Homo sapiens: one gene and its partners. The protein of the gene in region 1 purifies or fractionates together with the protein of each later gene. This does not show direct contact. Each region holds a gene or a part of one and is shown in the gene's direction. Other genes may lie near its edges. The genes, in order: LPAR2, CD47, KDELR3, MAOB, SLC27A4, GPR180 and RFT1.

Region 1 (4,173 bases):
ACACCTGCCTGCCTCCTTCACGGACTCGAAGTGACCTTCCTGGAGGAGGTGGGCAGCTCAGACTCCACATGCTGGTGGTGCCTGAGGTCTGATGGCCTCTAATAAACTGTGTCCTATATGCCCTTGGGTGCATCTCTGCTAGGGGAGAGGCCAGCATGGGTAGCACTCCTTGCCCCCATTTTACAGATTAGGGGAATCAAGGCCTCTTTTTTTTTTTTTTTTTTTTTTTTTTTTGAGACGGAGTTTTGCTCTGTCTCCAGGTTGGAGTGCAGTGGCACGATCTCCGCTCACTGCAACCTCCACCTCCCGGGTTCAAGCGATTCTCCTGCCTCAGCCTCCCGAGTAGCTGGGACTACAGGCGCCTGCCACCATGCCCGGCTAATTTTTTTGTATTTTTAGTAGAGACGGGGTTTCAGCATGTTGGCCAGGATGGTCTCGATCTCCTGATCTCGTGATCGTCCCGCATCGGCCTCCCAAAATGCAGGGATTACAGGCGTGAGCCACTGCGCCCGGCCTCAAGGCCTCCTTCTTGCATCATCAAACACCCTGCAGCACCTACGTAAAGGCAGTTGGAGCTGGGTCGCAGCACCCGGCTGAGTCACGCCAGCCCGGCCCTCCCGGAGCTCTGCGTCCCCGATCCGGTCCTGCATAATCAAATACAGTATAACAAAGTACCGATAACCGGGACAATGGGGCTGTGTGCTCCGGACCGTGGGAGCCCGGGGCCGCCGCAGGGAGGCCGAGGGAGGAAGCCACAGGGCAGGGCAGGGCAGGGCCGGGCTTTGCAGGGGGCAGCGCTGTCCCAGGGTGAGGGGTACGGGGGCGGGATTGCAAAACCCTAGCGTGCGCCCGATGATCAGCTGGGGCCGCAGAGGTGGGCCTCGCACAGGAGGCCGCGGCTCGCTGATACTGCGAGCTGGCAAAGCCGAAGCTGGGCGGGGGTCCGGGCGGTGGGAGCCAAGTCGGATCAGGGAGTGGCTTGTAACTCGGCGGCCGATTGGACACGAAGAAGAGAGCGGGGTGGGGCTGGGAGGGTTGGGGGTCCGGAGCGGGGGCGCGGACCCAAGACCACCTGGAGCTCCGCCCGGGCAGCGCGGGGTCACGGCGGGAATTTTCGGGTCGCCGAGTGACTCAGCCCCGCAGGCTCGAAACTGCGGGCGCATGAGGTGTGCAGGTACCGGGGTGGGGGTCCCGCGCCGGAAATAGGGGCGACTGAGGGGCCGCGAGGCGGGGAGGAAACAGGGGGGCTGCGGTTCCGGGCGACACCGCCCCCGACGCGGCCGTGGAGGCGGGGCTCCCCCAGGTGGCGGGGCGGGGCAGGGCTCCCCCAGGTGGTGGGGGCGGGGCGCCGGGGAGACCCCGCCTCCCGCGCCCTCTCAGCAACCCGCACAGGGCGCACCCGGACGCTCTACCGCTCCCGCCGCAGTCGCCGGGCCATGGGCCTCGAGCCCGCCCCGAACCCCCGCGAGCCCGCCTTGTCTGCGGCGTGACTGGAGGCCCAGGTGAGGCCTGCACGGACGGGAGGCGGGCGGGTGCGGGCCTGGGCCCGGGGGAAGGGCGCGGCACGTGCCTGCGGGGCCAGGACGCCGCCCTCTGATCCCTTAACCCCCTACCCCTTCCCCAGTCTGGAGACGCCTGGAGGCCCGGCCATCCATCCCTTCCCCAACCGCTGTCTTTGTCCCGGAGACCGCCAGTGTCCTCCGTCCCACCCGGAACAGCCTATTGCCCCGCCCGCTTGGGAAGCACTCGCGCCCAAATCCCGCCGACTAACTTCTGGGGCCGCCTCTCTGTCCACTCCGATCACCTCCACGCCTCGGCACCGCCCCCTCGCAGGGTTCTAGCAAGTGACCTCACCCTTGTGTGCACACGCTCCCGGGTCTCTGCTCCCTACACTGACTCCGGCACCAAAGTGATCCTCCCTCATCTCTTCCCGCAGCTCACACCCCTTTGTCTTTCCCTAACCCTCCTCTCCCCACAACCCAAACCGGGTCACACATTGGCGGCAGGTGGGCTGGGATTCGACCATAGATGGGTTTTGTTTCACTTCTGGTTCAAAAACCTATTGACTTGGGTGATGTCTTGCACACAGGTCTTATTAGTAGGTAAGAAACAGCTGCTCCTCCACCTCCACCCCAGCCCCATGGAGCTTGCTTTTTCCAGGCCACCGTAGTCCTCACCACTGCCACTTTGCTTCGAGGTATCTGAATTTGAGACCCTTGTCCTTCCTGCGCTGACCCTCCTCTGCAGCTGCCGCCCCTCCCTGTGTCCTTCCAAGAAGTGCCACATGCACTGATCTCTTGTGTCCCCAGATGGTCATCATGGGCCAGTGCTACTACAACGAGACCATCGGCTTCTTCTATAACAACAGTGGCAAAGAGCTCAGCTCCCACTGGCGGCCCAAGGATGTGGTCGTGGTGGCACTGGGGCTGACCGTCAGCGTGCTGGTGCTGCTGACCAATCTGCTGGTCATAGCAGCCATCGCCTCCAACCGCCGCTTCCACCAGCCCATCTACTACCTGCTCGGCAATCTGGCCGCGGCTGACCTCTTCGCGGGCGTGGCCTACCTCTTCCTCATGTTCCACACTGGTCCCCGCACAGCCCGACTTTCACTTGAGGGCTGGTTCCTGCGGCAGGGCTTGCTGGACACAAGCCTCACTGCGTCGGTGGCCACACTGCTGGCCATCGCCGTGGAGCGGCACCGCAGTGTGATGGCCGTGCAGCTGCACAGCCGCCTGCCCCGTGGCCGCGTGGTCATGCTCATTGTGGGCGTGTGGGTGGCTGCCCTGGGCCTGGGGCTGCTGCCTGCCCACTCCTGGCACTGCCTCTGTGCCCTGGACCGCTGCTCACGCATGGCACCCCTGCTCAGCCGCTCCTATTTGGCCGTCTGGGCTCTGTCGAGCCTGCTTGTCTTCCTGCTCATGGTGGCTGTGTACACCCGCATTTTCTTCTACGTGCGGCGGCGAGTGCAGCGCATGGCAGAGCATGTCAGCTGCCACCCCCGCTACCGAGAGACCACGCTCAGCCTGGTCAAGACTGTTGTCATCATCCTGGGTAAGTGGGGCCCCCAGGGGGCAACAGGGACCCTGCTTCCCCCTATCTCCCACAAGACACTGCGAAGCAATGAACAAAACAAGCTACCTGATAGAGGGTGATGGGGGATGATTTAGGTGGGGAATGTCCTCCAAGGAGGTGATAATGTATGTGAGCAGAGGCCTGAATGCTGAGGATAGGAACAGAGAGCCTTCCAGGCAGAGGAAACGGAAAGTAAAAACCTCAAGGCAGTACGAGGCCAGAGCCTCTAAAGAGGAAAGTGGGCTTGTGAGGAGGAGAGATCAGCAAGGCCTTAAGGGGCACGGACAGGAGTCTTATTTTGAGTTTCATGGGAACCCCTTAAGAGTTTTTAGCAGTGCTAGCCGGGCACAGTGGCTCACGCCTGTAATCCCAGCACTTTGGGAGGCCGAGGCGGGCAGATCAGCTGAGGTTGGGAGTTCACGACCAGCCTGACCAACATGGAGAAACCCCATCTCTACTAAAAATGCAAAATTAGCCAGGTATGGTGGTGTGTGCCTGTAATCCCAGCTACTCGGGAGCCTGAGGCAGGAGAATTGCTTGAACCCAGGAGGCGGAGGTTGTGGTGAGCCGAGATCACACCATTGCACTCCAGCCTGGGCAACAAGAGCGAAACTCCAGAACTCTGTCTCAGAAAAAAAAAAAAAAAAGGAGTTTTTAGCAGTGCTAAGCCTGTTTTAACAAAAAGCCTTTAAATTGTTTTTTAATCTATATGTATTTTTAATTTTTTTTTTTTTTTTTTGAGACAGAGTCTCGCTCTGTCACCCAGGCTGGAGTGCAGTGGCGCAATCTCGGCTCACTGCAACTTCTGCCTCCCAGGTTCAAGTGGTTCTCCTGCCTCAGCCTCCTGAGTAGCTGGGACTACAGGTGCGTGCCACTATGCCTGGCTAATTTTTCTATTTTTAGTAGAGACCAGGTTTCACTATGTTGGCCAGGATGGTCTCGATGTCTTGACCTCGTGATCCACCCGCCTTGGCCTCCCAAAGTGCTGGGATTACAAGCATGAGCCACCACGCCCGGCCCATATTTTTAAATTTCAAAATTTATTTTTGTTTTTAAGATACAGGATCTTACTCTTGCCTAGGCTGGATTACAATGGCTCCA
Region 2 (3,500 bases), on another chromosome or scaffold:
TATGTGTTTCTAAAACTTAATACGAAACTTGAATTGTTATAGTCAAATAATTTCTCATATGACTCACATAATAGTTTCAAAAAACTTTTACCTTTATTTCTGAACTTTGGTTCTTGATGATTGTTAATTGAATTCAATTCTGTCATATATTCTGTGTCTTTCTTTAATTAATGCTTATTAGATAAATAATTAAAATACTTAACTAAAATCTGCGTATCCTTAGCATATGAGTTCATAAGTCTTAGTTGTTGCTCAATGAAATTTTCTAATTTTATACCACATAATGCCATAAAATACAATGGAGACATCTAAAGCAGAATGGAATTCATGTGGTAGCTACAGTGAACATCTTGAATGTTGGTGCATATTCTATTTTTGTTACATCTTCCAATCACCATGTGTCTGGTTCTGGAAGATGACACTCCTGGTTTTGTTGCTCCCCACAAATGCCTGAGAATAGTGTGTGATTTGCAGTATCCATACAACTCTGGTGAAGTAGTATGAGATACCTTTGGCTGACGGGCAGCACGCTCTTATTTTTTCCTCACTATCTGGGTTGTCCTCCCTTTTACTCCCATGCCACCCCATGCCTTCCATATCTAGCATAGAATGATCTTCAGTACAGTTGCCAGCAGGTCTGGTGACAATGTCTCAAGTGGAACTAAGCATTGTCTATCTGCCACCTCCTTAACTTCACTCTCCTGCCTTCTCCATCACTTACGTTCCTCCAAGCCTGTGAAACCACTGTACTGTACCTGTCACTGTTCTGACATTAAAATTAAAATGACTTAAATCTTGACAAGTACCCCAAATTATTTTTTCTTTGTCATAGGTTAGCATATAAGTATACTATATGCTAAAATTTATGCTATATGTTTAAAATTTAGTGCAATTTTATTGATAGTGTCCTAATTTTATTGATAGTATCCTAAATTAACTTTTTAAATCAACTTGTCTGATGCCAGGGTTCAGAGGGACACCTACAGTCAGTTGAAAGGCAAGAAGAGACAAGGTACAGGAAAGTTGCTCTTTAGATAACATGGTAGACTAGGAGGAACATTAATATGGTTTGCTTATATAATCTGACTGTGTAAATCTGAATCTATGTAACATTAAGGTTGCAAATTTGAGCGTTTATATTAGGAAGTTAAAATTTTAAGTGTCTCCAAAATAATTTTTACTCATTGCACGTGTTCTGTTTTAGAAAAGCCTAATGATTGTGTTTTGATTTAAATGCAATAAAATCCTCAAATAGTTAAAAATCCAAGCTTTCTCTTCAAGAAGAAGTTAATGTCGCTATGAGATTTTTAACTTTTATAATTTTTATTATTTCCAACTTTAAATTTGTAGCCTTAATTTGCTATTTTAAAGAGTAGGCCTTTCACTTTCTACAACTTTCTGTGAAAGTGACTTTCACTTTCTATTTTTTAACTTTTTAAACTGTGTTGTATTTTTTTTCTTTTATTGGAAGCATTTTAATTTTATAAGATGAGAAAAAGGACTGGGCACAATAACTTAATGTGAAAGCATAGAAAAGATTACAAGAACCTAACCAAACTCACTAAAGTTGGGCTTGTTGTTTGTAGAGAACGTTTATATAATTATAAGGATCAATACTTTCTCATTTTTAAAGCCATTACCAGTTAGTTCAATATAAGGGCATATAGTGTTTTGATACAAATCAATCTGGTAGCAGTAAGTACCATATTTACCACAACATCCCAGATATTTTAGAATGATGCAGATGCAGAATATATACGTAGAATTTATATCTATGTATAGATACAAATTCAGATATTTTCTTGTTCAATTTAAGGAGAGGTAAATTTGGTATCAATAGAAAAAATGTTTCTGAAAAATTTAAACCCTGGAAATGTATTTATGGCATGGAGTCAGATGTTTCAGGGAGAGAAGAACAAATCAAGAAGCATTGCAAGTATGCTCATATGGAATGCTTAAGGCTTGTGGTTAAAAAATATATATATATGGCTGTCAATGTCTTAGGCTCATGGTAGCAGCAGAAATCGTAATAATTCTTTTGTCACATGGGTTATATCCATATTGGAGAGAATTAACTCAGGTGAAATTAACTTGTACACTGTTTGGTTTTATAATATTTAGAGGGATCACAACTGACTGATGTCCCTTTGAAGTACCATTCTTCATAAATCTTTTTTTTTCAGAATGGGCCAGCCAACTGTGACATCCCTTGGATCGGAGATTTAGAACTAGAAAGTATTCTTTCTACATTATTAGGGAAGAAAAGGAGTTACTTGGCGGTTAGCAATATTCTATTTTGTTTTGTTTTGTTTTTAGAGACAGGGTCTCATTATGTTGACCAGGCTGGCCTCGAGCTCCTGGGCTCAAGCAATGCTCCCACCTCAGCCTCCCAAGTAGCTGGGACTACAGGCATGTGCCACTACACCTGGCAGTGTTTATTCTGATAAATACATTTATGAGCTCAAAAATGTAACTCTAAAACCTTATCTCTGAACTTCCATATTACCATCAGAAATTTAGATAGTTGTTTAGTTCTCTTTTTCTTTGTAGAACATAGATATAAGGCATGGTTTCATTGAAGTCAGTTGTATATACATGTAACTATCCTGATGTTCCCAAATAAAGCTCTGTATTTCTGCTTAGTTTATTGGGGAGGCTGCTAAATGTAGTGCATCCCAACCCATTTTACCCTGTTCTACTTTAAAAAGAGGTTGGCTTCTTGTTTGGATACAAGGACCAAGTCACTCCCCCAGGTTCCTCCACAGTAAGGGAGGCCTATTTAAAGCCGCCCATGGCACTAACAGAAACTGGACTCCTATGAGCTCAGATACATAACTGGGCCTCACAGGGGTGGGACAGTATGTAGTCTAGGAATTGGAAGGATCCATTCCATATCAAAGAACTGAAGCATCGTGTTGCCCTCTCAGCAGCAAGAGTAAGGTGATGCCCCTGTCAGTTATAGTTCCTGAGTTCCTCTGTCTTTGATTCTTTGCCTATTAGCCAGCTAGCTCACCCTCTTGTTTATGCCACTGTTTTTTATCCTATTCATGCCTTCTCACAGACAACTTTTCTTACCTACAGCTTTGGACTCATCCTTGTCTCCTTTCTGTTTCTTTTTCACTTTCCCTTCCCATCACCAACTTTCTGGGTTTTTTTCTGTTTCTTCTTAGAGTCCAGTGGCAGGGAGAAACTTGTCAGTCCAGTCTGTTGCCATTTTTCCTGTTTGAGAAAGACTCACCAGCTTTTGGCTGGCTCACAGATTGGCTTTCCTTGGGTCAGGACCCACCCTTTTCCCTGCCAGCTTTGGAAGCTTGACAGAATTCGAGTGTGCAGTGGTGGTAAATAAATAGTAAGGAACACAGAGCAGTCCTGGAGGCGTGCCTCCATCTGCTGATGAGAAAATCCAGTGCTGTCATCCAGCCCAGGTCCCAGCGGAATGGGCCTCTCTGTTCAGTAGGATCCCCCTCCTGCTGAGTGGTTCATGGCATGTTTCTGTTCAA
Region 3 (4,240 bases), on another chromosome or scaffold:
TCTCTACTAAGAATACAAAAATTAGCCTGGCGTGGTGGCGGGCGCCTGTAATCCCAGCTACTTGGGAGGCTGAGGCATGAGAATCGCCTGAACCAGGGAGGCAGAGATTGCAGTGAGCAGAGATTGTGCCACTGCACCCCAGCCTGGGCCACAGAGCGAGACTCTGTCTCAAAAAAAAAAGGACTGCCTTTCCCTGGGAGGAAAAGTAGGGAAAGTAGGGGGCATAGGGAGCCATAGAAGGGTCTTGACCACTGAAGTGACAGATTTTTATCACAGAAAAGAGGCTGGCCATAGTGGCTTATGCCTGTAATCCCAGCATTTGGAAGGCTGAGGCAGGCAGATGGCCTGAGCACAAGAGTTCGAGACTAGCCTGGGCAACACAGTGAGACCCCATCTCTGTTTAAATACATTTGTCATGGAAAAGCCTCTCTGGTTATCTGTGGCAGGAGGTGGGAGTGGGAGGAGGTCCGTTATTTAGAGAGAGATGAGGGCGCTGAATGGGAGGAGGGCTTATTCAGGTCAAGGAGGGGAGGCTAAGGGCCCTCAGCTCACCTGGTCCACTCTTTCAGACGCAGAGACTTATATCCAGAGGGGGTGGTGGACCTGCTCAGACCACACAGCCCTGGGAGGACTCCCTCCCACCAGGGACCCTTCACTCCCCACCCTTCCTGGTGCTCAGCCCTCCTGGGTCTCTCCTGTCCTGTGTGTCCCTGTTTAACATCCTAGTAACACCAAGAAGAGGGAAGGCACGAACGAGGGCCCTGGATCTCCCTGACCAGCTTGACCTCCTGCCTACCCACAACAACCCGATTTTACAGGTGAGAAAATTGAGACCAAGAGAGAGGAAGGCCCACCGACCCAGGCTGCAGCCGAGGTCAGTCTGATTCTGCTGCTGAGTGGTGTGCCATTACCATTGTCCACCTGCAGCAAGATCGGGTCCCGACCGGGTGGACAACCAAATTAACAGACGGAGGTGGGGACTCCGCTTCCGGCTCGCCCCGCCCCACCCCACTCTCCCAGGGAGGGAGCTCCAGCTCCGGGAAGATGAGGACAATAGCAGGAATCGCCCCACAGGGTACTTCCACGTGCTGGCTCCTGCCAAGCGCTGGCACCAGTGTTATGGGGCCTGTGTACAGATGAGGAAACTGAGGCAGAGATTGGGGCTTGGTGGCAGGCCTCCAGTTTCTGCGGAGGGAAGGCAGAGGGCACTTGGGGCATGGGCGACATGGGTCGTGGCGGGCACCCGGCGCACACGGCAGCCGGGCGCAGGCCAGAAGCCCCCCCGCGTCGCCGGGCCGCCCAGTCCGGGAGCCGGGCGCTGGGATGGGCGGGAGGCGGGATCTCCGGGCCGCGCCGCTTCCTGGCTCCCCACCCTGCGCCGGCGGCCGCCCTGGCCACGTCACCGCCCGGCCAAGAGTGCGTGGGCGGCGGCGCGCGGGTGCGATCGCGGAGCTGTGAGGCGCAGGCAGGGCTCTGGGGCACCTAGAGACCGGGGCCGGAGACGTGGCAGCCGCCCTGCCCGCCAGAAAGTTTCCTAGAAGTTTGCTGGGCGCGGGCGCACGACTGACTGGCTGGACCATGAACGTGTTCCGAATCCTCGGCGACCTGAGCCACCTCCTGGCCATGATCTTGCTGCTGGGGAAGATCTGGAGGTCCAAGTGCTGCAAGGGTGAGGGGCGCCTGGCAGGGAGGTGCGGGACCCCCTCTCTGGCCAGCCTCATGCCCCTGCGTGCAGGGCAGGGCGCTCCAGGTGTCTGCTCAGGGTGGGGACTCCGGCGTGGGGGTCCTTGAAACTTTGCGGAGCTCCACTTCCAAAAACAATGTAAAGTTGTATAAAATCAGAGGAGGAGGACCCCTCGAGATGATGGGAGGCGGGTGGGTTTGTTCCTGCACAGACGCCCCCTCAGGTTGGCAGTGTCACTGCTGGTTGGAAGAGGGGGTTATAAGGGAGGTGACAACCCCTCCCTCCCACCAGTTACACCCATTGTTCCTTCCACCATCGACTGTGGGGAGAAGCAGATATGCACTCAGGAACGGCCCACGATTCTCAAGGTCTTCTCTTCCCTGCCCCTTCCCAGACCCCACCCCGCCCCCCAAAGTGAGCCCTCGTCCCTCCCCTGCCTGCATGTGTGGCACCGGTGGCTGTGATGTGGCAGGAGGGCACCAGCCGGGCTCAGGCGGGTATGGAGCTGCCTCTAAACGGAAGCCGGGGAAGGCTGGAGGGGTCCCCTGTTTGCATTCTGGCTGCCCTGCTGGGGGTTTGGAGAAGCTTGGAGGCTGGACTCGCGGTCGCCAACAGATCCAGAGCCACGAAAGGCTGCCAGAGCCTCCTCCAGCCATCTTTGTCCACCGGCATCCTCGTGGTGCCCTCCCTGTGCCTGGCACTGGGTGTGCAGAGGCAGGAGTGAGCTCAGGCTCCTCGTGGGGCTGAGGAGGCTGAGAAGGCTGAGAGTGGGCCCCGAAGGCCCTGTGGAAGGAGCAGCTCCGTGCTGGTCCCGGAGGACGAGCAGGTGTCAATCCAGGAAGTGTGTGCTGTGGAGGGCTCCGGGGATGAAGAGGCATGGAGGTCACCAAGCACCGGGCATCCCCCGGGAAGGGTGGGCAGCCAGATTTGGGGTGGTCTGGAGGGAGATGAGTCCAGGAGGGAGGCTGGTCCAGATGTGAAAGGGCCTTTTCTGCCAGGCCAGGGAGTTGGGTCTGGGGAGCCCTTCATGGTTTGGGAGCCGGGAAGGGGCCTGGAAGGGGGCCTGAACAGGTTGCTTTGCAAGCTTTGAGAGAAAAGGCACAGAGCAGGGGGAGGCCTGGCAGGGTGGGGGTTGGTGCAGACATGAGCAACAGTACGGTGTGGAGGGAGTGGTTCTAGGCCTGGAGGCCATTTGGGTTTGGGGTCTCTGGAGAGACAGGTACAGAGACAGTTCAGGTTCTTCCTCAGGGGAGGTGGCCAGGAATGCTGAGTGGGGGACCCGGAGCAGCAGGCCCTGGTGAGGGGAGAATCAGCTCCAACCTCTTCCTGCACTTTTGCAGAAGGCCCTGCACGGAGTGAGCAACCATGACCAAGAGGGGACACTGGTACCTGGCCGCTGTCTGCCAGACACTGCTGGGCACCTAGAATACAGCCCGGACAGCAGAGGCCCAGCCCTGGTGGAGCTGACTTTCTTTTATTTATTTTTTATTTTTATTTTTTAACAGAGTTTCGCTTTGTCCCTGAAGCTGAAGTACTGTGGTGTGATCTCGGCTCACTGCAACCTCCACCTCCCAGGTTCAAGCGATTCTCCTGCCTCAGCCTCCTGAGTAGCTGGGATTACAGGCACGCACCACCACACCCGGCTAATTTTTGTATTTTTAGTAGAGACGGGGTTTCGCCATGTTGGCCAGGCTGGTCTTGAACGCCTGACCTCAGGTGATTCACCCACCTCGGCCTCCGAAAGTGCTGGTGCTGGGATTGTAGGCGTGGGCCACTGCGCCCACTTCTTTTTTTTTTTTTTTGAGACAGAGTTTTGTTCTATCCCCTAGGCTGGAGTGCAGTGGCGCAATCTCGGCTCACTGCAACCTCTGCCTCCCAGGTTCAAGCTATTCTCCTGCTTCAGCCTTCCAAGTAGCTGGGATTACAGACGCCCGCCATCACACTCAGCTAATTTTTGTATTTTTAGTAGAGACGGGGTTTCGCCATATTGGCCAGGCTGGTCTCGAACTCCTGGGCTCGAGTCACAGGTGTGAGCCACCATGCCCGGCCAAGTGGTGGACCTGACTTTCTAGTGGTAGGAAGCCATCAATAAACAATAGTCCTAGGAAACTGAGCAAATGACACGGTTTGTTGGAGGCCATAGTGAGTACTATGGGAACAGAAAAAGGGCAGCTGGGTGGCAGGGATGGGCCTGTGTGTGCACAGAGAGAAGTCAGAGGTGATGGAGGCAGGGCCTGGTATGACCTCAACAGACCCAGCCCCAAAGACCAGAGACTTGGGCTTCACTCTCACTCCTCCCCTTGACTCGCTGTGTGACCCTGGGCCTGTGTTTTCCCATTTGTCAAATGGGAGTGAGGGCTGCCCCTGGCAGTGGGGTCCACCTATGCTTAGTGGACCCCGGAGGGACTCTGGCCAGTCCAGGCTCACATTGTCCTCTGTGTCCCGGGTCTCCATGTGCAGCTTCCTGGTGGAAATGATTGTTTTCAAAAGTGTGAAAACTATTGTGCTCAAGATCACCGGGGGGCTGGGCACAGTGGCTCACACCTGTAATCCCAG
Region 4 (3,500 bases), on another chromosome or scaffold:
AAATGTGGTTATTAATTCTTCAATTTATCCTTCTGCAAAAGATGCCCTGCTAGATATCAAAAGCTCTTTCAAAGAGCTTGTCTCTTCAATTTGTCTTGGTACTTCTTCAGCCAAGTTTCTTCAATTTTTCTTGGTACTTGAAAAGCGGGTGAGTGTTCCTGGGCTAACTCCTAGAATTCTCAATAAATGTTAACTTTGTTATTTGTACAAGTCACTGGGCAGTACTCAATTGAGGGCACCCTGGAATCATGCAAGATCGAATACCCTTGAAGGGTGCAAAAGTGAGCCAAATTGAGGGGCCACGTTCAGGTGTAATATGTGTCTGAAGAACGAGTGTTTTCAGCCCCACAAGAGAATGCTTTGGAAATTTGCTCAGGTTAAATGTGTACCATTGTGCTTTTGCAAGAATCTCATTCGCTGGGCTTAACTTATTAGTAGTGTGTCTGCATAAAAGTTGTTATTTCCCCTAAGAGGAGGCCATAATGGTATAAAATTCCTTCCTGATTTTGAATATTCAAGGAACAAACTTAGAAGACCAAGCTAAAAAATACTTTGGTTTAATAGAATCATTGGTGACTGAAGACGGAAGCATCTTTAGAGTTTTACCTACTAGTTAAGATCGCCTGGTTTTGCATCCAAGAAAAAGCACATTTAGAGAGTGCAAAGGGCTGGCTCCAGACCTCACAGCCCCTTCTTTTGAATAAAATTATTGTCCTGGAGGATGAGCCCTCAGCCTTAGGAGAAAATGCAAACAGAAGGACAACCTGATCAAATGGTGCTGGGTGAGAGGTTAGAATCACTAATACTTTGAATGCACTATTTCTACTTTCTGTTTTCATGCTCACAAAATGGATCCATCTTTGGCCTCCTCTGTTAACTCAGTAAATAAAGATACAGAAAGCCAAGTCCCTGTTAGCAATGTTTCCTAAGTCAGCATGCATTTATTTACTGAAGGAAGGTATAGAAAAAGAGTAAGACTAAGTTCCCAGCCTCAGGAAACTTAAAATGCAGATGGAGACACAAGACTAGCACATACATGCAATAAGGAACAATTAAACTAATGTATAATTGAATTCTGAACTGTGGGACCCAAGGACTAAGTTAGAAGAATCATTAAAGACCCCAGGAGTTGGAGAAGGTCTCATTAAGGGAGTAGAATTTAACAGATTCTGAAGAACAGTCCAGGTTTGGGAGGGTAGAGAAGAGAGAGGCTTTAAAGATGAGAAGAATCATTTAAATCATAGGGCCAGAGACTTCAGTTAGCAGGTGATCTTTATATTTACAGGACAGTAGAAAGTCCAGCTTGTCTAGAATAAAAGGAAGGGGAGACATGGGAAGGAAAGTTAGTAGGAGGGGGGCAGGATCCAAAAACGAGCAATTGAAAAACAAAGTGAAAAGTTAGGTTTTCCTGTGGTAAGAAATAGGGAGCCATTGACAGTTTATACTATAAAGATAAGGTGGATGGTCGTGTGCCTGATAACCAGGGAAGCCAAAACATGGATAGAAATTCAGGAAAGGATTGAGAGGTGATCAGCTGATTATAATGTATTGGGTTATTCTGAATGCCCAAGGGAGGTTTCAAGAGAAATGGGGATAGAAAGAAGGGAAGAATGAGTAGAAGGAGGTGTCCAAAGTTGCACTTGGCTTTCTTCACTGTCTTGCTGGCAGCCTATCCAGAAAAGAAGTATCACAAACAATAATTAGTTGTAATTTAATGAAGTTGTAGGCACTCCATAAAACATTTACCACTGTTACTATTGCCACCTATATTTTATTTTTGCAAACTTCCCTCCAAAGTTTTATCATTGGGATTGAAGGACTTGACTGTATTTACATTTTTTCTTCTTTAAAAAACTAAAAACAGAGATTTTCTTCCCAAGGGCTGTGACCCAGTTTACTAAATGATAAAACGTGTATCTCTGGCAATCTCAAACACAAAATGAATAGTTCATCTTATTTGTTATATAAAAACTGTCGGCCGGGTGCAGTGGCTCACACCTGTAATCCCAGCACTTTGGGAAGCCGAGGCGGGCGGATCGCGAGGTCAGGAGACCGAGCCCATCCTGGCCAACATGAAGAAACCCTGTCTCTACTAAAAATACAAAAATTAGCCGGGCGTGGTGGTGGGCGCCTGTAGTCCCAGCTACTCGGGAGGCTGAGGCAGGAGAATCGCTTGAACCAGGGAGGCGGAGGTTGCAGTGAGCCGAGATGGCACTACTGCACTCCAGCCTGGCGACAGAGACAGACTCCATCTCAAAAACAAACAAGCAAACAAAAACGAACAAAAATGTCATTTAAACCTTTTGTTTTGTGAGAGAGGGGCACCATCAGAAAACATCTTCAGGTAGGTCTGACCTTTCAAATGTTAGTCATCTTACCATAGTCTCCATTTAATGGCATCTTAAATGTCATATACTATCTAATTTCCACTTCATATCTGAAATTTGAGCTCTTGATCTTATGTTATGCATCTCTTAGCTAGGCCATTTTTAATTCTACTCTCCTCCTCAATAACATTTATCAGAATTACACAATGATGAAAATGTCCTACTAGATACTTAGTTTTATTTGCTCTCCTTCTAGCCTAAATAATCGTCCCTTTTGCTTAACCTCTCCAACATTTTTAATGATTCTTTTAATTGAATTTGGAATCCTTACTTCATATTTTGAAGTTGGGCTACTTTTTATTGCTGTGATCCCAGTGGTGTGTGTGTATTAAATTGTGTATTGATAATTATGTCTTTAGTTATATCTCATTTCTTTGGGTTATTTTCCAGTTTTCTACATTAAAGAAACAAGCTCATTGGAAGAGCTTTTGTTATCCAGCAAAGCATCTTTTTTCAGAAGGATAAAGTTAAGAATTAATAACCAATTTAGTTAATAACCAAAATTACTTCAAACATTTGGTAAGAAGAAAGGCCACTGATAGAAATGAAAGATGCAATCACATTCCATCTTGATGATCTACAGTTTGAGGACATTTTTTAGAGAGGTGTGAGTATCTTTTTTAATAGCATGAATGCAGAAATAATAAACATTTGTTGTGAAAATCTGTAAATTATAGAAAATGGCAAAAAGAAAATGAAAATCATCCATAATTGAACTCCATAAAATATTTACCACTGTTACTATTGCCACCTATATTTTCTTTATGCAAACTTTATGTTGTATTTACTGTACTTATTTGTATCCCCTTTAAAAATAAATACCAACATGTTATGAATGTTTACCTATGTCTTAAATGTTTTTTCATGATTTTATAACATTAGTTCATATGATTGTATCACAACTTGTTGAATCAATCTCCTATTGCTGAACATTTGTGTTTTTTTCAAACTTTCTGCTATTTTCAACAAAGCTGTTATGAACCTAAATTGTTGTACATAATTCTGATTGTTTCTTTAGGAAATTTCCAGAGATAAATGTTAGAAATTCTTTTAAGGCATTTAATAATTATAGCAAAATTGTCGCCCAAGAAAGTTTTACCAATTTACCTTATG
Region 5 (3,500 bases), on another chromosome or scaffold:
GCCACCGCGCCCGGCCAAGCAATTCTCTTTTCTCACCCTCCTGAGTAGCTGGAATTACAGGCAAACCCCACCATGCCCGGCTAGTTTTTCTATTTTCAATAGAGATGGGGTTTCACCATGTTGTCCAGGTTGGTCTCGAACTCCTGACTTCAAGTGATCCATCCACCTCGGCCTCCCAAAATGTTGGTATTACAGATGTGAGCCACCATGCCCGGCCCTCATTCATTCATTTTCATATTGACTCCAAATGACCCTGAGTCCAGGCTGCTTGAGATTTATTCTGGCTCAGCTCCTTAGCTCTGTGTCATGGGCGAGTATTCAGCCTCACTGTGCCTAAGTCCCCTTATCTACAAACTGTGCCCATGGCAGCACCCACACATGGGGCTGGCCTGAGGATTATGTTTCATAAAGAACATAAAACTCTGAGTGGGTCCCGGCATGGAGCAGAGGCTTGGGGCGCTGGCTTTGTTAGGCTGTCCCCAAGGAGCCTGACTTATGTTCATCCTCCCATCAGTTTCGAGAACAAACATCACTGGCTCAGTGTGTCCGACCTGCCAAGATGAGCTCCTGGGCTGGGGGAGGGTGGGGCATTTCTGTGGCAAGCAGCATGACTCAAATCAGATCAAGACACAGAGTACAGGCTGGGAGTGGTGGCTCACACCTGTAATCCCAGCACTTTGGGAGGCCGAGGCGGGTGGATCACCTGAGGTCAGGAGTTCGAGACCAGCCTGGCAAACAGGATGAAACCCATCTTTACTAAAAAATAAAAAAAAAAAATTAGCTGGGCCTGTTGGCGTGTGCCTGTAATCTCAGCTACTCAGGAGGCTAAGGCAGGAGAATTGCTTGAACCCAGGAGGTAGAGGTTGCAGTAAGCCAAGATTGCACTGCTGCACTCCAGCCTGGGCAACAAGAGCAAAACTCCGTCTCAAAAAAAAAAAAAAAAAAAAAGACGCAGGGTACACCTGGTGACAGGACGGGTGGGAGAGGCTGCCTAGGGCAGATCTGACCCTGCCTTCCCCACCCCAGGTGAGCCGGGCCAGCTGGTGGGCCGCATCATCCAGAAAGACCCCCTGCGCCGCTTCGATGGCTACCTCAACCAGGGCGCCAACAACAAGAAGATTGCCAAGGATGTCTTCAAGAAGGGGGACCAGGCCTACCTTACTGGTGGGTCCCCAGCCCTTCACAGCCCCTTCCTGAGGGTTGGGGGAGGAGGGGACCTTCTCCCACCTCCAGAGGACACCTTCCCAGGACTCCCCCAGTCCTGGCCCTTGTGGTCAAACAAATCCTTGGGCTCCAGCAAAGCCTCCCTGGCTTGAGCCCTGGTCTCAGAGCTGGCCAGGCCCAGCCCTGCCTCATCCGGCCCCTCCCTAGGTGATGTGCTGGTGATGGACGAGCTGGGCTACCTGTACTTCCGAGACCGCACTGGGGACACGTTCCGCTGGAAAGGTGAGAACGTGTCCACCACCGAGGTGGAAGGCACACTCAGCCGCCTGCTGGACATGGCTGACGTGGCCGTGTATGGTGTCGAGGTGCCAGGTATGTGCAGGCAGGCGCGAGGTGTGGGTAGGGAGGCACCACCCAGGGGCACCACCAGCTACTCAGTGTCTACCCTGCCACCCCCAGGAACCGAGGGCCGGGCCGGAATGGCTGCTGTGGCCAGCCCCACTGGCAACTGTGACCTGGAGCGCTTTGCTCAGGTCTTGGAGAAGGAACTGCCCCTGTATGCGCGCCCCATCTTCCTGCGCCTCCTGCCTGAGCTGCACAAAACAGGTGTGTCCCTCCCCTGCTCCAGCTCTCGGATCCCAGGTCCCTTCCCGTTTCCTTCTGGAGAGACCCGGTTGGCTGTTACTTGACCTCTGCACACAGCCTGGCCGGGCAGTTGGTAAAGTGACCTGCCTGTGTAGAGGTGAGCAGACGGGGCTGGCAGAGAAGACACACATTGTTCCTTAGTAGAACACATATTAGGTGCCAGGCACAGCGCTAAGCCTCGGGATACGGCTGGTGAGCTCTGGATGTTTTGCCTTCTTGGAGTTTTAGAGCAGGAGAGAGGCTGGCCTAGGACAAGGCATTCCAAAGGTAAAGAATCGACCACATAATCTGTCATGAGATTAGAGTTAAACAGATAAAAAGAAAAATGAACCACAGAGCAAGCTGATAGGAAAGCAAAAAGGTGGGACGCTTGGGATGACTAGAAGGCTCCTCTGAGGAGGGGATGGTTCAGCTGAGACCTGAATGAAAGGAAGGACTTTATGGCGGTGGGAGGCACTCTAGGCTGCAGGAATAGACACTGTAAAGCCCCCGAAGCAGGAAGGAGCTTGGGTGCTGGAGGAACGAAAGGGGGCCCCCAAGGCTGGAGCCAAGTGAGAGGGGCAGGCAGTGGCATGAAGTGGGAGAGAAACCAGCAGGGGCCAGAAGCCCAGGGCCTTGCAGGCCAGGGTAAGAGTCGGGACTGTCCCGGGGGCAGTAGGGAGCCACAGAAGCATCTCAGCAAGGCCGGGCGCAGTGGCTCATGCCTGTAATCCCGGCACTTTGGGTGGGAGGCCAAGGCGGGCAGATCACTTGAGGTCAGGAGTTCGAGACCAGCCTGCCCAACATGGCAAAACCCCGTCTCCACTAAACATATAAAAATTAGCTGGCTGGGCGTGGTGGCTCACGCCTGTAATCCCAGCACTTAGGAGGCCAAGGTGGGCGGATCATTTGAGGTCAGGAGTTCGAGACCAGCCTGGCCAACATGGTGAAATGCCATCTCCACTAAAAATACAAACATAAAAATAAAAAAATTAGGCTGAGCATGGTGGCTCACACCTGTAATCTCAGCACTTTGGGAGGCCAAGGCAGATGGATTGCCTGAGCTCAGGAGTTTGAGACCATCCAGGGCAACATGATGAAACCCCGTCTCTACCAAAAATACAAAAAAATTAGCCAGGTATGGTGGTGGGCGCCTGTAGTCCCAGCTACTTGGGAGGCTGCAGCAGGAGGATCGCTTGAGCCCCGGAGGTGGAGGTTGTAGTAAGCTGAGATCACGCCACTGCACTCCAGCTTGGGCTACAGAGTGAGACTCCGTCTCAAAAAAAAAAAAAAAAAAATTAGCCAGGCATGGTGGTGGGCGCCTGTAATCCCAGCTACTTGGGAGGCTGAGGCATGAGAAGCACTTGAACCTGGGAGGTGGAGGTTGCAGTAAACCGAGACCGTGCCACTGCACTCCAGCCTGGGAGACAGAGTGAGACTCTGTCTCAAAAAAAAAAAAAAAAAAAAATTAGCCGGGCGTGGTGGTACATACCTGTAATCCAGCGACTCGGGAGGCTGAGACAGGAGAATTGCTTGAACCCAGGAGACCCAGGAGCCACAGGTTGCAGTGAGCTGAGATCATGCCACTACACTCCAGCCTGGGCGACAGAGTGAGACTCTGTCTCAAAAAAAAAGCATCTTAGCAGGTGGGAACCTGGTCAGACTCATGCTCTACAAAGCTCTCTGGCTGCTGTGTACGGAGTGGGAGAGGA
Region 6 (3,500 bases), on another chromosome or scaffold:
CCTGTTGAGGTTAATCAGAACCTAAAAATGCTAGTAACATTTTTTTGTCTGGTACATGCTGAAAAAAAGCTACACAGTTCTACTTATTTCACTTTTTCCTTTGTTTCAGGGCTGTATCTTGTGGTTTTTATGCCATCCAGTTCTTGCATGCATTTCTGTCATTTTTAGCGACTACCAAAGAGACAAGGTAAGAAATATACATGATCAAAGTAGTTTTCTTAATGAAAATATTGTCTTAATTGGGAGAATATTTAAATAGGAGGGACCTATTTATTTTTTAAGACATTTTCTGGGTTATTTAAAACTTTGAAACAAAATAGTAAACCAATAAGCAGATAAATTTGAAGTTTAAAATATTTTTAAAATATTTATAAGCAAAATGGTGGAAATAGCTTTTCTTGATTGTACTACAATAGATAATTTTAAAATAGAAATTTTGTTTTATAAATTAGAGAATTTATAATACATCTTTTAAAAAATGATTAAAATTTTTCTTACATAATAGCAAAAATCAAGATTTGTAAAAATCAGTCTAGTTATTGAACAGACTACAAACCAGAGTGCCATGCTCAAGTATGATGCATTTTGATTGTGTTGATACCTACCTTCTTAGGTGAATGGCTCCATCATTTCAAAATAGAGGTCTGCCAGGAGCCCTTTACAAGCAATGCAGTATGTGCCTGAATGCACAAATGTTTATTGAGCCTGAGGTGTTTACAAAGGGTGAATAGATAGGACAGTAGTCTACAAAAATAGAGAAGCAACTTGAGAATTTTTGAAAGGGCTTTTAGAGTACTCTTTAAAGTTCAGGTAGGAGCGTGCTTTATTCCTGTTCCTAAATTAGCTAGGAACCTGATTTTTCTTATTTACTGAAACTTGTCTGTAGTGCATACCCTTAGGAGAGAATGGTTTAGCAAGTTATTCTTTTGTGCCTTACTTTGTCATCTACAAAATAACTGTTAAAGGGATTTTTATCCTTAAACAATTAGAGTTCTGAGCATTAGTCAGAAAATTTTTTTGATAAAATGTACCTATGGTAAAGATGAAAGATAGAGTATTGTATTTATATAAAAAGCATATATAGATTCATAATAAATTGAATATTATTTCTCTATTTCTGCATGTAGTAAAAGCATTCCTTTCCTTTTCTTTTCAGGTTATTACAATAGGTGTTATCCTTTGCCAGTCTGTTTCCATGGTTATTCTCTACAGACTCTTTCTGTCTCACAGTCTATACTGGGAAGTTTCTTCACTTTCTTCAGTAACACTACCACTGACCATATCATCTGGACACAAAAGTCGCCCTCATTTCTGATACTTGATTTTTGTTGAGAGGAAAAGTGAATTGGTTAAAAGAGTGCAATAAGGATCCAAATACAGTGACTTTTTTTTCATACATTTAGTATGAAAACTTGAACAGCGAAAGCAGAGCATGTTATTTATATAACTGCATTTAAGCAGTACCAAGACTGAAAAAAAAGGTAATAAATGAAATGTTTTGAAATATACTTAAACAACAAACTTTGAAGAAAGTGTTGTTATAAAATTATTGAAGCGATTTCTATGTGGAAATAAATGTGAAAAATAACTATGATATTTTGGTAAAATATTCACCACTTATAATGCCTCATCTTAATAGCTAACTCAGGTTTAATAGTCTTATAAAAAGTAATCAGTTAAATGATTACTTGCTTATAAATATCTAAACTAGTCCAGTTATGAAATCAGTGTAATACATTGATTTTTAAAACTGCTGCTTTTTATGCTTTAAGGAAAATGTATTTCATATTTGAGTTTAAAGGAATTGAAATTACTTCAGGAAATGAATATAAAATAGGTTCACAGTTAAATGAATAAGCTTTTGTTTATTTGTGGGTGGAGTTATTCTCCAATTTTTTCTGCCATTTTTGGCTCTAGTTCAGGTTTTAGCTTGATTAGCAAAGGTTTTTGACAAACAGTTTATGAAAAAATAAAACTTAAATACATTACACGGGTTGTAAGGACAAAGGATTTTAAAATCTGAGCACTTAGGTGAAGGGACAAGCAGGTTTATGTGTTTAAACAGAAAGAAGGGAAAAGGTACTATGTGATATGGTACTGAAATTTTGATCCCAATAGAATTCATTTCTCTTACGTTGAATCCCCAATCATAATTAAGCCGTATACACAGATTAAATTAACAGAAGCATTTCACATAAATGTTGGTTTCAGTCATCAACTACCCATGAATTCCTGCCCAAGGATACTTAATCAGGATTAAATTTTCTATGAATAATTGAAAAACAAAACACTCACTGGATTTGTTATAATCCGTGTTGGCACTGGATTCTAAGTAGTTGCCATCTTGAATCCTTTGTAATAAAGCCATACTTTTGTGTGTGTGTGTGATGCCCCAGTATTGAGTATGCTAGCTAAAAAATATCAAGTGCCTGATTAAAGAATTGCTAAATGGTTGTCAATACTCGCTGTATAAAATGAGTATTCCCATTAATAGTCACTGATTGGAAATTATTCTGTTGCTGTTTGTCAAGCTGTTCAGGCCTTTTCCTTTTTACTTCTGGCTTATTTTAAAAATATTTTTTATCTATTTACTGTGTGTTTAAGCAAGCAACAGTGCACTGATCTGGTAGTTAAATTTTTTAATTAAATAGTTAAAATAATGTAGTGCAACTTAAAAATATCTATGGCTTTGTTTTTGTTTTTCTTTTGTACCTAGTCTCATTGGAAATGACTAGTATTCTGCCTCATTTTCAGGGCAGAATATGTGTTTGTGACCCAAAATGACAAAGTTACCAAGTTCAACCTGCTCATTAAATCATCTCTCTATTAGTTCTTTGTAAATCACTTAGTACATTAGAGCTACAGGTTAAGACTAGAAAGTCTGAGTTATGTTTTAGGTATACATGATCGTCTGAGTGGTCATAACCTTTTCTTTTATCATGTCTCGCTAATAACCCCAGCTATTGTCTGTTGTGTTCAGCTGAGATGCAAAAAAGAAATTAAGCAAAAAAGAAAAAGATGAAGACTTTTCATGAATTTTGTGAACTTGCCAAAAGGGGAAGGGAAAAATCTTTGTGTTACTTCACTCAAAGAACATAAGTAACTGCAATTAACATATATGAAATTTATTACTCTGCTTGCATTTATGAAACTAACCAGTTTTTTAAACTTTAATTCTTAAATTTATGGTTGGAAATGCTGATAATTTATTTTGTTATTTAAGAGCTGTTGTTAAGTGGAGGAAAGTAGTTGTTAATAAATGTATAAAACTGTTCTTGACTAGTAATCAGGGACAAAATTTATAGTTCATAAGTCATGACACAGTATTCGCTCTTTTTCTGAATGTTTACATAGAGATTCATCACTGCAGATTACAGAAAGTTAAGTGTATACTACAAACTCTAATTAAAGATAAAAATCTTTTCTACTTTTCTTTGTCAGATAATGCTTTTTTATGTGTTTTTACATTTTTTGAAAGAAGATAAATGGTTCATCCAGAG
Region 7 (3,500 bases), on another chromosome or scaffold:
AAAACATCAACTTTGCATTAATGACCTGTATAAGAAAGTACTGTTGATGGAAGCATTCTGTATCTTGACTGTATCATCGTTGGTATCCTGGTTGTGATATTGTACTATAGTTTTACAAAATGTTACCACTGGGTAAAGGGTATATATGGGATCCCTCTATTACTTCCTATTTTTTTGTCTTTTTTATTTATTTTTTATTTTTTGAGACAGGGTCTCATTCTATTGCCCAGGCTGGAGTGCAGTGGTACCATCACAGCTCACTGCAGCCTCAACCTCCTGGGCTTGGGTGATCCTCCCACCTCAGCCTCCCAAATAACTGGGACTACAAATGCACACCACCACGCCTGGCTAAATTTTTCCATTTTTGTAGAGACAGGGTTTTTCCGTGTTTCCCAGGCTCATCTCAAACTCCCTGGCTCAAGCAGTCCACCCACCCTGGCCTCCCAAAGTGCTGGGATTATAGGCATGAGCCACCGTGCCTGGCCACTATTACTTCTTATAACTCTGTGTGAATCTATAATTATCTCAAGATAAACAAACTTTAATGAAAATATTAAATAATTTTAATAGTGCTATAAAAATTAAAATAGAAAAACCAACATGATTGTTGTTTCTTCTTTTTTGTTTTGTAGGTGTGTATGATATAGTGAATAATCTTGGCTCCCTTGTGGCCAGATTAATTTTCCAGCCAATAGAGGAAAGTTTTTATATATTTTTTGCTAAGGTGCTGGAGAGGGGAAAGGATGCCACACTTCAGAAGCAGGTAATGTTGGTTCTTATGTCATCTCTCAAGTGAATTCTCCCTTTAATTGCAAGACAGACAGGAGTGTGAAGCAGTCTGTTTCTCTTCTGTTTGATCAGGAATTTTCTTATAGATTTCATTCTTCTATTACATTCTTCATGATAGTGGGACCCAGGGCTCACCTCTTCTTTCGTGGCCTTCTTGCTTTGCTCTTGGCTGTCCCTTCCTTCTCACACCTTTGTTATTCGTTGTGACCTTACTCTTTTTGGGGGGGGGGGCGGGGATAGAGTCTTGCTCTGACGCCCAGCCTGGAGTGCAGTGGCATGACCTCGGCTCACTGCAACCTCCACCTCCCAGGTTCAAACGATTCTCCTGCCTCAGCCTCCTGAGTAGCTGGGACTACAGGCATGCGCCACCACACCCAGCTAATTTATGTATTTTTAGTAGAGATGGGGTTTTGCCATGTTGGCCAGGCTGCTCTTGAACTCCTGACTTCAGGCAGTCTGCCCACCTCAGCCTCCCAAAGTGCTAGGATTACAGGTGTGAGCCCCCATACCTGGCCATGTGACCTTACTCTTGATCCAGCCCTCTCAGGACTCTAAAGCTGTCCCCATTGCCCTGCAGATGCCCAGCCATGGGCTAGTCTTAGGCGTAAGAATGCTTCCCTTATCCTCAGAGTCTCAAGAGCCAAAGGATGCAGAAGTTGGAGCCAGGCTAATCAAGGGCATAGGGAGGAGAGGAAGTGGTTGTTGGCTTTCGCTCACCACACCAATTATTTAAGCTTCTTACAACTGGGACATGCCCAGAGCTACACTCTGACTGTAAGATTCTGTATACTCGGGTTGGTAAATACAGAAGAAGAGATTTTAATCTAGGAGTATTTTGTTGTAGGAGCTTCACTTTTTCCAAAACCACTGAAAATGTCTGACTTTTCTTAGAATAGCAAGCTAGTTCAGCCTCTTGCTTGTCTTAGAAGAAATTTAGTAAAATACAGTTTATGCACAATATCTCAAAATGAGCTAATCTGGTACTCAGTCTGATTTAGGAATATTTTCCTAAGAGTACCTTCACAGTATCATCATAATTTTGGAATGTTTAGCAGGAGAAGCACAGAGCTGGCTAGTGTATATGAAAACTTGCTGCACATTTAAGAATAAATATTAGTGGTCTGGTGCAGTGGCTCATGCCTGTAAGCCTCACGCTTTGGGAGGCCAAGGCAGGAGGATTGCTTGAGGCCAGGAGTTTGAGATTAGCCTGGTCAACATAGTGAGACTCCCTTCTCTATTTCTATTTAAAAAAAAAAAAAAGAACAAATATCAGAGGGGAAAGTGAGTGTTTCCTAAGCAATATTTGAAACAATTTATCCCAAGTGAATTGAAAACTAACCCTCCCCCTTACGACCTAAGGAGACACACACTTTTTCCTTCATTTGCTAACTGACGTGAAAACAAACACACTACAAAAAAATAGTGATATCCATCACGCTGTTGGAAGAGTGAACTGTAAAACAGTGAAGGGAGAAGGCCAGACGTGAAGGATGAAGGTTTTCTTCAGCTCATGATTCATCCAACTTCCTTCCCTCTTCCCTGGCCCCAGGAGGACGTTGCTGTGGCTGCTGCAGTCTTGGAGTCCCTGCTCAAGCTGGCCCTGCTGGCCGGCCTGACCATCACTGTTTTTGGCTTTGCCTATTCTCAGCTGGCTCTGGATATCTACGGAGGGACCATGCTTAGCTCAGGATCCGGTACGCACAAGAGTTTTTCTGGATTTTTTCTGATTTCCCAACATAAATAGAAGAGTCACGAAATTCAAGAACTTGTGCACACACAGTTGTTATCTGTGTCAGTGTAGGGAAAACTGTCTGGTGGCAGGGGCTGTGGGACTGTTCCCCTCGTTCAACTCCAGACACACACTCAAGGTATAGGCAGGGGCGTTGGCGCCAGGACAATCAGCTTCCCCAGCCTCACTTGGAGAAGTTATTAGGACTTCTCCTTGCTGTTGGCTTTCCTCTCGGGCCTAGAATGTGTTTTGCCAAGCGCTTCCCTGTGCTCCCTCTGGGGTGAGGGAGGAAGGCAGAGGGCAGACGGTAATGAGTCTCCACTTGGTACTAAACACATCTGAAGATAGTAAATGCCACATAAATCTCCCAGCCTAGTGCATAAAAGCCTCTGAAGGATAACCCAAAGCCATTTGCAGAGAATAAAATTGATCTCTGCAAATAAAATGGTATATTTAATCCAGTGACTCTCAGTTTTTGAAGAAGAAAAGTATTGAATGTGTCTAATTTTGAAACACCAGGCCGCTGAGGATCTCACAGCACTTGTTAGGTCTTGGGGACTTCATCAATTTCAAAATGTGCTGGGCTGTAAGCTGGCAGTCCATTTGCAGTGCTTCATCTTGGGTTTAGCAAAGATGTTTTTAATTTCTCAGGTCGCTGGACAAGAACGCTGAGGACTTCTTTCTGCTGCCCCATCTCAATATAAAGGGCTTTGTCAAATGCCATTTTACAAGTTCACTAGCATGTTTTAGTCTCCACTACAATGGGGCCCAAACTTTTGGTGTTAGGGGAGGAAGGGCCAGGTTTCTATACCAGAGCAAAGGTCATTAAGTTTGGAGAAACACCTGCTGTGAAACCAGTGAAGTGGTTTGCAGCTCCCTGGGGCTTGTGCTGTGAGAAGTGTATTTCCATCTGGCAGCTGTGGGGAGGCCTCATGAGGAAGGCATTAGTAAGTTTATGGGCAGAGATTGGGAACTCGACTAT

Evidence for each region.
Region 2: the proteins of LPAR2 (region 1) and CD47 purify together in Homo sapiens (affinity purification with mass spectrometry; one large-scale study listed by BioGRID and IntAct). This does not show direct contact.
Region 3: the proteins of LPAR2 (region 1) and KDELR3 purify together in Homo sapiens (affinity purification with mass spectrometry; one large-scale study listed by BioGRID and IntAct). This does not show direct contact.
Region 4: the proteins of LPAR2 (region 1) and MAOB purify together in Homo sapiens (affinity purification with mass spectrometry; one large-scale study listed by BioGRID and IntAct). This does not show direct contact.
Region 5: the proteins of LPAR2 (region 1) and SLC27A4 purify together in Homo sapiens (affinity purification with mass spectrometry; one large-scale study listed by BioGRID and IntAct). This does not show direct contact.
Region 6: the proteins of LPAR2 (region 1) and GPR180 purify together in Homo sapiens (affinity purification with mass spectrometry; one large-scale study listed by BioGRID and IntAct). This does not show direct contact.
Region 7: the proteins of LPAR2 (region 1) and RFT1 purify together in Homo sapiens (affinity purification with mass spectrometry; one large-scale study listed by BioGRID and IntAct). This does not show direct contact.

Annotation. Positions count from the first base shown.
Region 1 is NC_000019.10:19,625,421-19,629,593, reverse strand, and holds the start of LPAR2 (lysophosphatidic acid receptor 2), read left to right. Parts: upstream 1-1,373; 5' UTR 1,374-1,502; intron 1,503-2,309; 5' UTR 2,310-2,318; coding exon 2,319-3,051; intron 3,052-4,173. UniProt on the Homo sapiens protein: Receptor for lysophosphatidic acid (LPA), a mediator of diverse cellular activities. Seems to be coupled to the G(i)/G(o), G(12)/G(13), and G(q) families of heteromeric G proteins. Plays a key role in phospholipase C-beta (PLC-beta) signaling pathway.
Region 2 is NC_000003.12:108,053,032-108,056,531, reverse strand, and holds part of CD47 (leukocyte surface antigen CD47 isoform 1 precursor), read left to right. Parts: intron 1-965; exon of another isoform or gene 966-1,012; intron 1,013-2,183; exon of another isoform or gene 2,184-2,279; intron 2,280-3,500. UniProt on the Homo sapiens protein: Adhesive protein that mediates cell-to-cell interactions. Acts as a receptor for thrombospondin THBS1 and as modulator of integrin signaling through the activation of heterotrimeric G proteins.
Region 3 is NC_000022.11:38,466,656-38,470,895, forward strand, and holds the start of KDELR3 (ER lumen protein-retaining receptor 3), read left to right. Parts: upstream 1-1,440; 5' UTR 1,441-1,578; coding exon 1,579-1,669; intron 1,670-4,240.
Region 4 is NC_000023.11:43,872,451-43,875,950, reverse strand, and holds part of MAOB (amine oxidase [flavin-containing] B), read left to right. Parts: intron 1-3,500.
Region 5 is NC_000009.12:128,354,027-128,357,526, forward strand, and holds part of SLC27A4 (long-chain fatty acid transport protein 4), read left to right. Parts: intron 1-1,026; coding exon 1,027-1,164; intron 1,165-1,371; coding exon 1,372-1,536; intron 1,537-1,623; coding exon 1,624-1,770; intron 1,771-3,500. UniProt on the Homo sapiens protein: Mediates the levels of long-chain fatty acids (LCFA) in the cell by facilitating their transport across cell membranes. Appears to be the principal fatty acid transporter in small intestinal enterocytes.
Region 6 is NC_000013.11:94,625,857-94,629,356, forward strand, and holds part of GPR180 (integral membrane protein GPR180 precursor), read left to right. Parts: intron 1-109; coding exon 110-187; intron 188-1,156; coding exon 1,157-1,315; 3' UTR 1,316-3,500.
Region 7 is NC_000003.12:53,102,936-53,106,435, reverse strand, and holds part of RFT1 (man(5)GlcNAc(2)-PP-dolichol translocation protein RFT1), read left to right. Parts: intron 1-632; coding exon 633-763; intron 764-2,338; coding exon 2,339-2,483; intron 2,484-3,169; coding exon of another isoform or gene 3,170-3,222; exon of another isoform or gene 3,223-3,241; intron 3,242-3,500.